2 linked regions of the Homo sapiens genome follow. Changing the gene in region 2 together with the main gene of any one other region gives a genetic interaction. Each region holds a gene or a part of one and is shown on either strand. Other genes may lie near its edges.

Region 1 (3,800 bases), on a different chromosome or scaffold from region 2:
AAAATTAGCTGGGCATGGTGGCATGCGTCTGTAGTCCCAGCTACTCAGGAAGCTGAGGCAGAAGAATCACTTGAACCCGGGAGGCGGAGGTTGCAGTGAGCCGAGACCACGCCACTGCACTCCAGCCTGGGCGACAGAGCGAGACTCCGTCTCAAAAAAAAAAAAAAAAAAAGAATTGTATTTGTAAGAGATTACATACTCTTGCATGTTTGATAACACATAAGGTAAAGGAAAAGAAGGTAGAAATAGGTAAGATTAGAATATTGAGTCATGTGGCAGTATGTTATAAAGGCTGCCATGGAAATTCCAGAGGGAACTACAAGAATGCCTGAGCAGTTTTATGTTCCTGCAGAAATTACCCTTACTATGTGCTGGGCACTGTTACAAATAATTTGTTTAAGGGTATAGTTGAGGTGGGATACCATGAATTTGTGATGGATGCAGTCTGCCTTTTTGGGGGGGGACTTTTTTCTACTGTTTCACTGCCTACCTTCCTCTACTTCATTGTACTCAAGGTAAGCCTCATTATCATCAGTGTTGGCTTTCACAAGGATGCAGTCTCATGACTTGGCCTTTGTAGGAAAACACCATTAGAAGAGTAGATGGTTGGGTAGTGGCTCTCTTCTTCTTCTGCTTAGACTCTTGTCTACTATGAATAAAGGGCTCTATTTGCAAAGGCCGTGATGGGTTGAAGCACATTGAGAAAGAGGCTACTGAAACATAAGTTACCTTTCTCGCCCAGGTGAGATTTCAATGGAAAAAGTGAAGGTAAAGCGTTATGTGTCCGGAAAAAGGCCAGACTATGCCCCTATGGAGTCCTCAGATGAGGAGGATGAAGAATTTCAGTTCATTAAGAAAGCCAAAGAACAAGAAGCAGAGCCTGAGGAACAGGAGGAGGATTCATCCAGTGACCCCCGGCTACGGCGTTTACAGAACCGTATTAGTGAAGATGTGGAAGAGAGGTAATGTCTGTGATTGTGTTTACTTGAACATGAACCTCTACAGCTTAATAATAATAATAATAGCTAATACTTGAATAGTACTACCAAGTAGATTACATTTGCTAATTCTTGTAATCCATACAATAACTTTATGAAATAGGTGCTATTATCCCCATTTCACAAAAGGAGGAAACTAAGAGCACAAAGGGGCTAAGAAAGTTACATGACCAAAGCTACAAAGTGGCAGCTTCAGGAAACAGCAGGTTACTTCTGGCCTAAAGGACCTACTCAACTCCTTATGGGAATAGAAAACACAGACCATTTGTTGGCTGTTGAGAGGAGTCTTTTTAGCACAAAGATGTTTTATAAACTTTGGTAAATTGATTTTATACATCTACTTATTCTAAATGCTAATAAGGGGAAATGACACTGAAGTAGGAGAAAAGACCTTATAAAGGTCTCATGGTAGAAAGAGAGCCTCCCAGTGAGGGATTTTGTATGTTATATATTGATGGAGACATTACTTTATAGAGTAGGCCAGGAGTCCTGAACTTTCACCGTTCATAATTGTCCCAGGAGTTTTTTCACAGAGCTCCTGGGCCAAAACAGTTCTGTTTATTTTAGTTATTAAGTAGTTAGAGCCAAGTAACTTAATAAGTATTTATGTCCTAATAACTTTGCCACTTGAAGATTAACAGTGCCCATGGCCAGGTGCGGTGGCTCACGCCTGTAATCCTAGCACTTTGGGAGGCTGAGGCGGGTGGATCACGAGGTCAGGAGTTCAAGACCAGCCTGGCCAACTTGGTAAAACCCCATCTCTACTAAAAATACAAAAAAATTAGCCAGGCCTGGTGGCGGGCACCTGTAATCCCAGCTACTTGGGAGGCTGAGGCAGAGAATTGCTTGAACCTGGCAGGCAGAGATTGCAGTGAGCCGAGATCACGCCACTGCACTCCAGCCTGGGTGACAAAGCGAGACTCCATCTCAAAAAAAAAAAAAGAAAAGAAAAAAGAAAAAAAAATAAAATTACAGTGCCCAGGGGGGAAAAAACACTTTTATTCATTCTCACATAACCATAGTTACTAGTGGAATTTGTTTGCCTGTTGGACACTGACAGCCTTTCAAACCTTGGAATCAGCACTGTCACTTTTTCATGTCTTGTTTTATATTGATTTTCATACTATACTTTCTTTTACTTTTTATCACAGCAGCCACCAAAACCCAGTTTCACAAAGACACGATATTCTCGAAAGGAATGTAGTGTGACTTAATGTTGAAAGTGAATTATCTTGAGCTATTAAAAATATTCCAATGCAGGCCAGGCTCAGTGACTCATGCCTGTAATCCCAGCACTTTGGGAGGCCTAGGCAGGCGGATCACCTGAGGTCAGGAGTTCAAGACTAGCCTGGCCAATATGGCGAAACTCCATCTCTACTAAAAATAAAAAAATTAGCTGGGTGTGGTGGTGCATGCCTGTAATCCCAGCTACTCGGGAGGCTGAGGCAGGGATTATCACTTGAACCTGGGAGGTGGAGGTTGTGGTGAGCCAAGATCATGCCCTTGCACTTCAGCCTGGGTGACAGAGTGAGATTCTGTCTCAAAAAAAAAAAAATCCCAATGCATCCCTATGAGTTTGCTGGCTTGCTGTGGTGCCCCAGGATGCCTCAACATACATTTAGTATTTCAGGCCCAACTTGACTATTCGCTCTGACATCCTAGTTTAGTTTCTTTAATCTGCACCTCAGTTTCCTCCACCTCAATACTTTAATACTGGATGGACATGGTGGCTCACACCTATAATCCCAGCACTTTGAGAGGCTGAGGTGGGCAGATTGCCTAAGTCCAGGAGTTCAAGACCAGCCTGGGCAACATGGTAAAACCCCGTCTCTACAAAAAATACAAATATTAGCCAGGTGTGGTGGCACGCCTATAGTCCCAGCTACTCAGGAGGCTGAGGTGGGAGGATCACTTGAGTCTGGGAGGCAGAGGTGGCAGTGAGCCAAGATCGCACCACTGCACTGCAGCCTGGGCGACAGAGCAAGACCCTGCCTCAAAAAAAAAAAAACTTCAGTATTAATGAAGGCAAACATAATGTGCTCTGTGGCTATGGAAATGCAGTTGATGCTACTTCATTTTTATGACATTGGTGTTACATTTGGAGATACTGTTTTTCAGATTGGCTCGACATCGAAAAATAGTGGAACCTGAAGTGGTAGGAGAGAGTGACTCAGAAGTAGAAGGAGATGCTTGGCGCATGGAACGAGAAGACAGCAGTGAAGAAGAGGAGGAGGAAATTGATGATGAGGTATGATAAAGGAACATGGGAAGTTTTTTTCTGGATATAAGAAAAAGTTCATGCCAGTGCTCATTTGTTGAAGCCTTAAAAACATGAGATCACTGCTTTGGCAGGACTCTGATCATGTTCCTTGTTTGTGGGGATAGGATTAAAAATAGAATGATACTAAGTTGTATCTTTTTACATTTGAATTTGTTGTGTTTGATGAGACGAACAAAAAGCCATAGGCCATTTGACTGACTGGCTTATATATATGACTTGATAGGAAATAGAGCGGCGGCGTGGCATGATGCGTCAGCGAGCACAGGAGAGAAAAAATGAAGAGATGGAAGTCATGGAAGTGGAAGATGAGGGTCGTTCTGGAGAGGAGTCAGAATCAGAGTCTGAGTATGAAGAGTACACAGACAGTGAAGATGAGATGGAGCCTCGCCTTAAGCCAGTCTTCATTCGAAAGTAAGTATCTCACAAGCCAGATCTGAATCCACTTAATTACCACTTTCCAGGCCTGGAGACAAAAGTCTGTTTTCTGTCTTGCTATTCTGAAATCTAAACGCTGAGTGAAA
Region 2 (4,100 bases):
TTTTAGGTTCTCTATTCTCATGAAAAGGTGAAAATGGAAGGCACTATTTCTCAACAAACCAAACTCATTGATTTTCTGCAAGCCAAAATGGACCAACCTGCTAAAAAGAAAAAGGTGAGTCAAAGTGTTTGAAAAGTGGGAATTGTCAGTTTCACTCATCATTCATGGCTCAGTGGACACCACTGTGATATATGATCATAGGAACATAGAAGAAAACAAAGTATACTTTTTTTGTTGTTTTATTTTGGGTTGAAAAATAGATTTTGAGATAATTATAATAGGTCTTACTGAAAGATATCAGTGATCAAGTCTAACAAACTACTTTTTGTTTATGACCATTCAAATCATAGTATCTTTGTTAAAGAAGTAATCCCTCCCCAGCCCACACACATAGCAGTTGGGGCAGAGGGATGTATGCAGAGAGAAAGATTTATACCAAGTCATGCATACATGACTCTAGAGGGAGTTAGCAAGTCACAAGTATGGGGCTTCAGCAGTTCAGGTCTCTCGTACCACACTCCAGAAAGGACTTTAACAGTGATCTAGTCCAGTCCTTTTGATCGGCTCACAAAGAGACTAGAACTCAGGGAGCTGGGGTGACCTGCCTGAAGTGTCTGACTGGACACTTCTCCCCTCTGCCAAGTACTGAACAACCCTTTTAGATTGCAGGAGACAAATTACAAACTAGGGGCAGGGTTATACATAGTGCACATGAGAAGATTGTTTTTCATAAGCCTGATCTATACATGCTTTCCCAAACCACTAAAGCCTTCATACTAGGTTTGGCCAGGTGTTCTCAGTTCCAGAAAAGTCTTGAAGAAGCTTGCAGTTTCCTTCCAAATGCAGAAGCATACCATAGCAGCAGTGGCAGTGGTTTTGCAGGAGAGGCCTTGATGACTTGGAATACCTAGGAGGAAGGAGTGGAGGGCTGAAGTTGACAGTTGTCTCAATATTTCCGGTGCCATCTTCGCTGTAAGGGCATGAGCACAACATTCAGAGGCCGCCTCCCACTAGACGTTGGCTGCACGGGAAGGATTTTCTTGCATGCTGCGTGACTGTATATGGTTGTTATGCTTATGATATTTAATCTTTTTTATTTTAGCAGTGAACTGTTACCTGGTTATGTCACTTGATTTAGTTAGGGTGTTTCCATTTGTTATTTTTTTTAGTTACCTTTTTTTTAAGTTGCATTATTCTGTTTTCCTTTTTTTTCCATGTATAGTAAATATTTTCATTTGCATTTTTTTTTGAGTAAGCCCCTTGTTTTGACCTCATTTTAGCATTCCTTTTAAAATTTTGCTTCCTTTTACAAAACACTCATCTCTGTGTCTTGTAACTGAGCATCATGAGACATATTCCAAGGCAAGAGTGACCTCTGAACCATCTCTCCTGACTCCATACTCCATACTCTCCTGATTCCATTTTTTGAATGGGAAAGACTCAGGACATGACTCTCCTGTCTTGGCAATGCTAGAGGAAGAGGTGGTGGCCATTCAAGCATCTTTAATCCTCTTGGTGAAAACTTCCGCACCCCTATTTTTTTCAGCCGGCTGGAACGGGCTGTGGCTCAGCCTACCCTTCCCCCCCTTCACATGCCATTTTTACTAAATACACTTACAGTGAGTATGCTCCTGGCTTTTGTGGTTTGCTCCTCCCGAGTCAGATTTCCTTTAGCTAGTTTCAAGTGCCAGTTTCCAGGAGTTAGGAGATATCTCTGTTTCCATTGCTAGGGTTTATTTAGTCGACGGAAAGAGGACCCTGCTTTACCCACACAGGTTCCTCTGCAGTACAATGAGCTGAAGCTGGCCCTGGAGAAGGAGAAAGCTCGCTGTGCAGAGCTAGAGGAAGCCCTTCAGAAGACCCGCATCGAGCTCCGGTCCGCCCGGGAGGAAGGTAGGGGCTCACTCTCTCCAAAATGCTCAAGGATGTGGAAAAGGCAGAGGATTGATCTCAGTGAGATCAGCCAAGACTAACTAGCTCAGTGTCTTCGTTTATGGCCCATACGCTTTCAGACCAGACATCCCATGTCTGAAAAACGTATGGCCCCTGTGCATTGCCAAGTTGATGTGACGCATATTCTTTTGGTCTTGGGTCCTTGAAAGATAGCCCAGGGACATTCGGCTTAGTTTGGTCCTCTAGGCGACCCAGCTAACCAAAAGGCATTGTCCTGGTCTCTCTGCAGCTGCCCACCGCAAAGCAACGGACCACCCACACCCATCCACGCCAGCCACCGCGAGGCAGCAGATCGCCATGTCCGCCATCGTGCGGTCGCCAGAGCACCAGCCCAGTGCCATGAGCCTGCTGGCCCCGCCATCCAGCCGCAGAAAGGAGTCTTCAACTCCAGAGGGTACGTTGGAGTTGTATGGAAATTTCTTTTAGTCGACTAAGACATGTGGGCATATGGTAAAAATTACAAGTAATACTAGGGGTTAAAGATTAAAAAGTCAGTCTTGGCCAGGCACGGTGGCTCACACCTGTAACCCCAGCACTTTGGGAGGCCGAGGTGGGCGGATCACCTGAAGTTGGGAGCTCAAGACCAGCCTGACCAACATGGAGAAACCCCGTCTCTACTAAAAATGCAAAATTAGCTGGGCATGGTAGTGTATGCCTGTAATCCTAGCTACTCGGGAGGCTGAGGCAGGAGAATTGCTTGAATCCGGGAGGCGGAGGTTGCGGTAGCCGAGATTGCGCCATTGCACTCCAGCCTGGGCAACAAGAGGGAAACTCCATCTCAAAAAAAAAAAAAAAAAAAAGAAAGAAGTCAGTCTCCTGGCTCCCCATCCTCAGTGTTGGTTCATATATGTGACCACATGTCTATACCATTCATGTATCTTACATTGTGTGATTATATTTAAAGAATATGAGAAAATAGGCTGGGCATGGTGGCTCACGCCAGTAATCCCAGCACTTTGGGATGCTGAGGCAGGCGGATCACCTGAGGTCAGGAGTTTGAGACCAGCCTGGCCAACATGGTGAAACCTCGTTTCTACTAAAAATACAAAAATTAGCTGGGTGTGGTAGCATTCTCCTGAAGTCCCAGCTACTTGGGAGGCTAAGGCAGTAGAATCATTTGAACCCAGGAGGTGGAGGTTGCAGTGAGCCGAGATCACCCCACTGCACTCCAGCCTGGGTGATAAAGTGAGATTCCATCTCAAAAAAAAAAAAAAAAAAAGAAAAGAAAAGAAAAAAGAATATGAAAAAATAAGCACATCTCTCTCTCAGGCCTTTTTTCTTTTATAAATATTATAGTGGTGGCTCACGCCTGTAATCCCAGCACTTTGGGAGGCTGAGGTGGGCGGATCACCTGAGGTTGGGAGTTCGAGACTAGCCTGACCAACATGGAGAAACCCTGTCTCTACTAAAAATACAAAATTAGCCGGGTGTGGTGGTGCATGCCTGTAATCCCAGTTACCTGGGAGGCTGAGGCAGGAGAACTGTTTGAACCTGGGAGGCAGAGGTTGCAGTGAGCCAAGATAAAGCCATTGCATTCCAGTCTGGGCAACAAGACTGAAACTCTGTCTCAAAAACAAAAACAAGAAAACGTAAGCTTATCTTTCAGGCCTTTTTTCTCTTATAAATATCATAGCACACTACAGTATACACTGCAAGACACCTTCGTTTCATTAAAGTGCTATCTTAGAGGTTTCACATTAGTACATAAGGACCTACCCCATTCTTTCAGAGAACCACACAGTATTCCGTGGTGTGAGCATGCAATTCACCTGTTAAGCCAGGCTCCTGTTGATGGCCATTTAGGTTGTTTCCAATCCCCTGTTACTGTAAACACCTTGCAGAGGACATCCTGTGCCTCTGTGGGTGTTGTGCCTGGAGAAATTCCTGGGAAATGAATCACTGGGTTAAAGGTCATGTACATTTTGAGTGCTGGTAGTTTGTGCCAATGTTTATTTCTACCAACAGTGTGAGGAGTTTTCTTGCTGGTCTCAAATGTACTCCATTTACCTAGAGATTAAAAGGACTTAAGAAAAGGCCAAGGAAGCTGTTTGGAATGTCTTAGGAACACTAGGGTAGAGCTGTGGTTTAGCAATCATGGCATTGCAATCAAACCTGTTTTGGTTGTAAACCAGATGGTGTTTTCTTGT

Evidence for each region. A genetic interaction does not mean that the proteins touch.
Region 1: changes in CIT (region 2) and MFAP1 together harm fitness more than expected from each alone (negative genetic interaction), as found in Homo sapiens cells (one large-scale study listed by BioGRID).

What each region holds. Positions count from the first base shown.
Region 1 is NC_000015.10:43,814,391-43,818,190, reverse strand, and holds part of MFAP1 (microfibrillar-associated protein 1), read left to right. Parts: intron 1-742; coding exon 743-962; intron 963-3,116; coding exon 3,117-3,246; intron 3,247-3,502; coding exon 3,503-3,690; intron 3,691-3,800. UniProt on the Homo sapiens protein: Involved in pre-mRNA splicing as a component of the spliceosome.
Region 2 is NC_000012.12:119,716,492-119,720,591, reverse strand, and holds part of CIT (citron Rho-interacting kinase), read left to right. Parts: intron 1-6; coding exon 7-114; intron 115-1,730; coding exon 1,731-1,893; intron 1,894-2,182; coding exon 2,183-2,347; intron 2,348-4,100. UniProt on the Homo sapiens protein: Plays a role in cytokinesis. Required for KIF14 localization to the central spindle and midbody. Putative RHO/RAC effector that binds to the GTP-bound forms of RHO and RAC1. It probably binds p21 with a tighter specificity in vivo.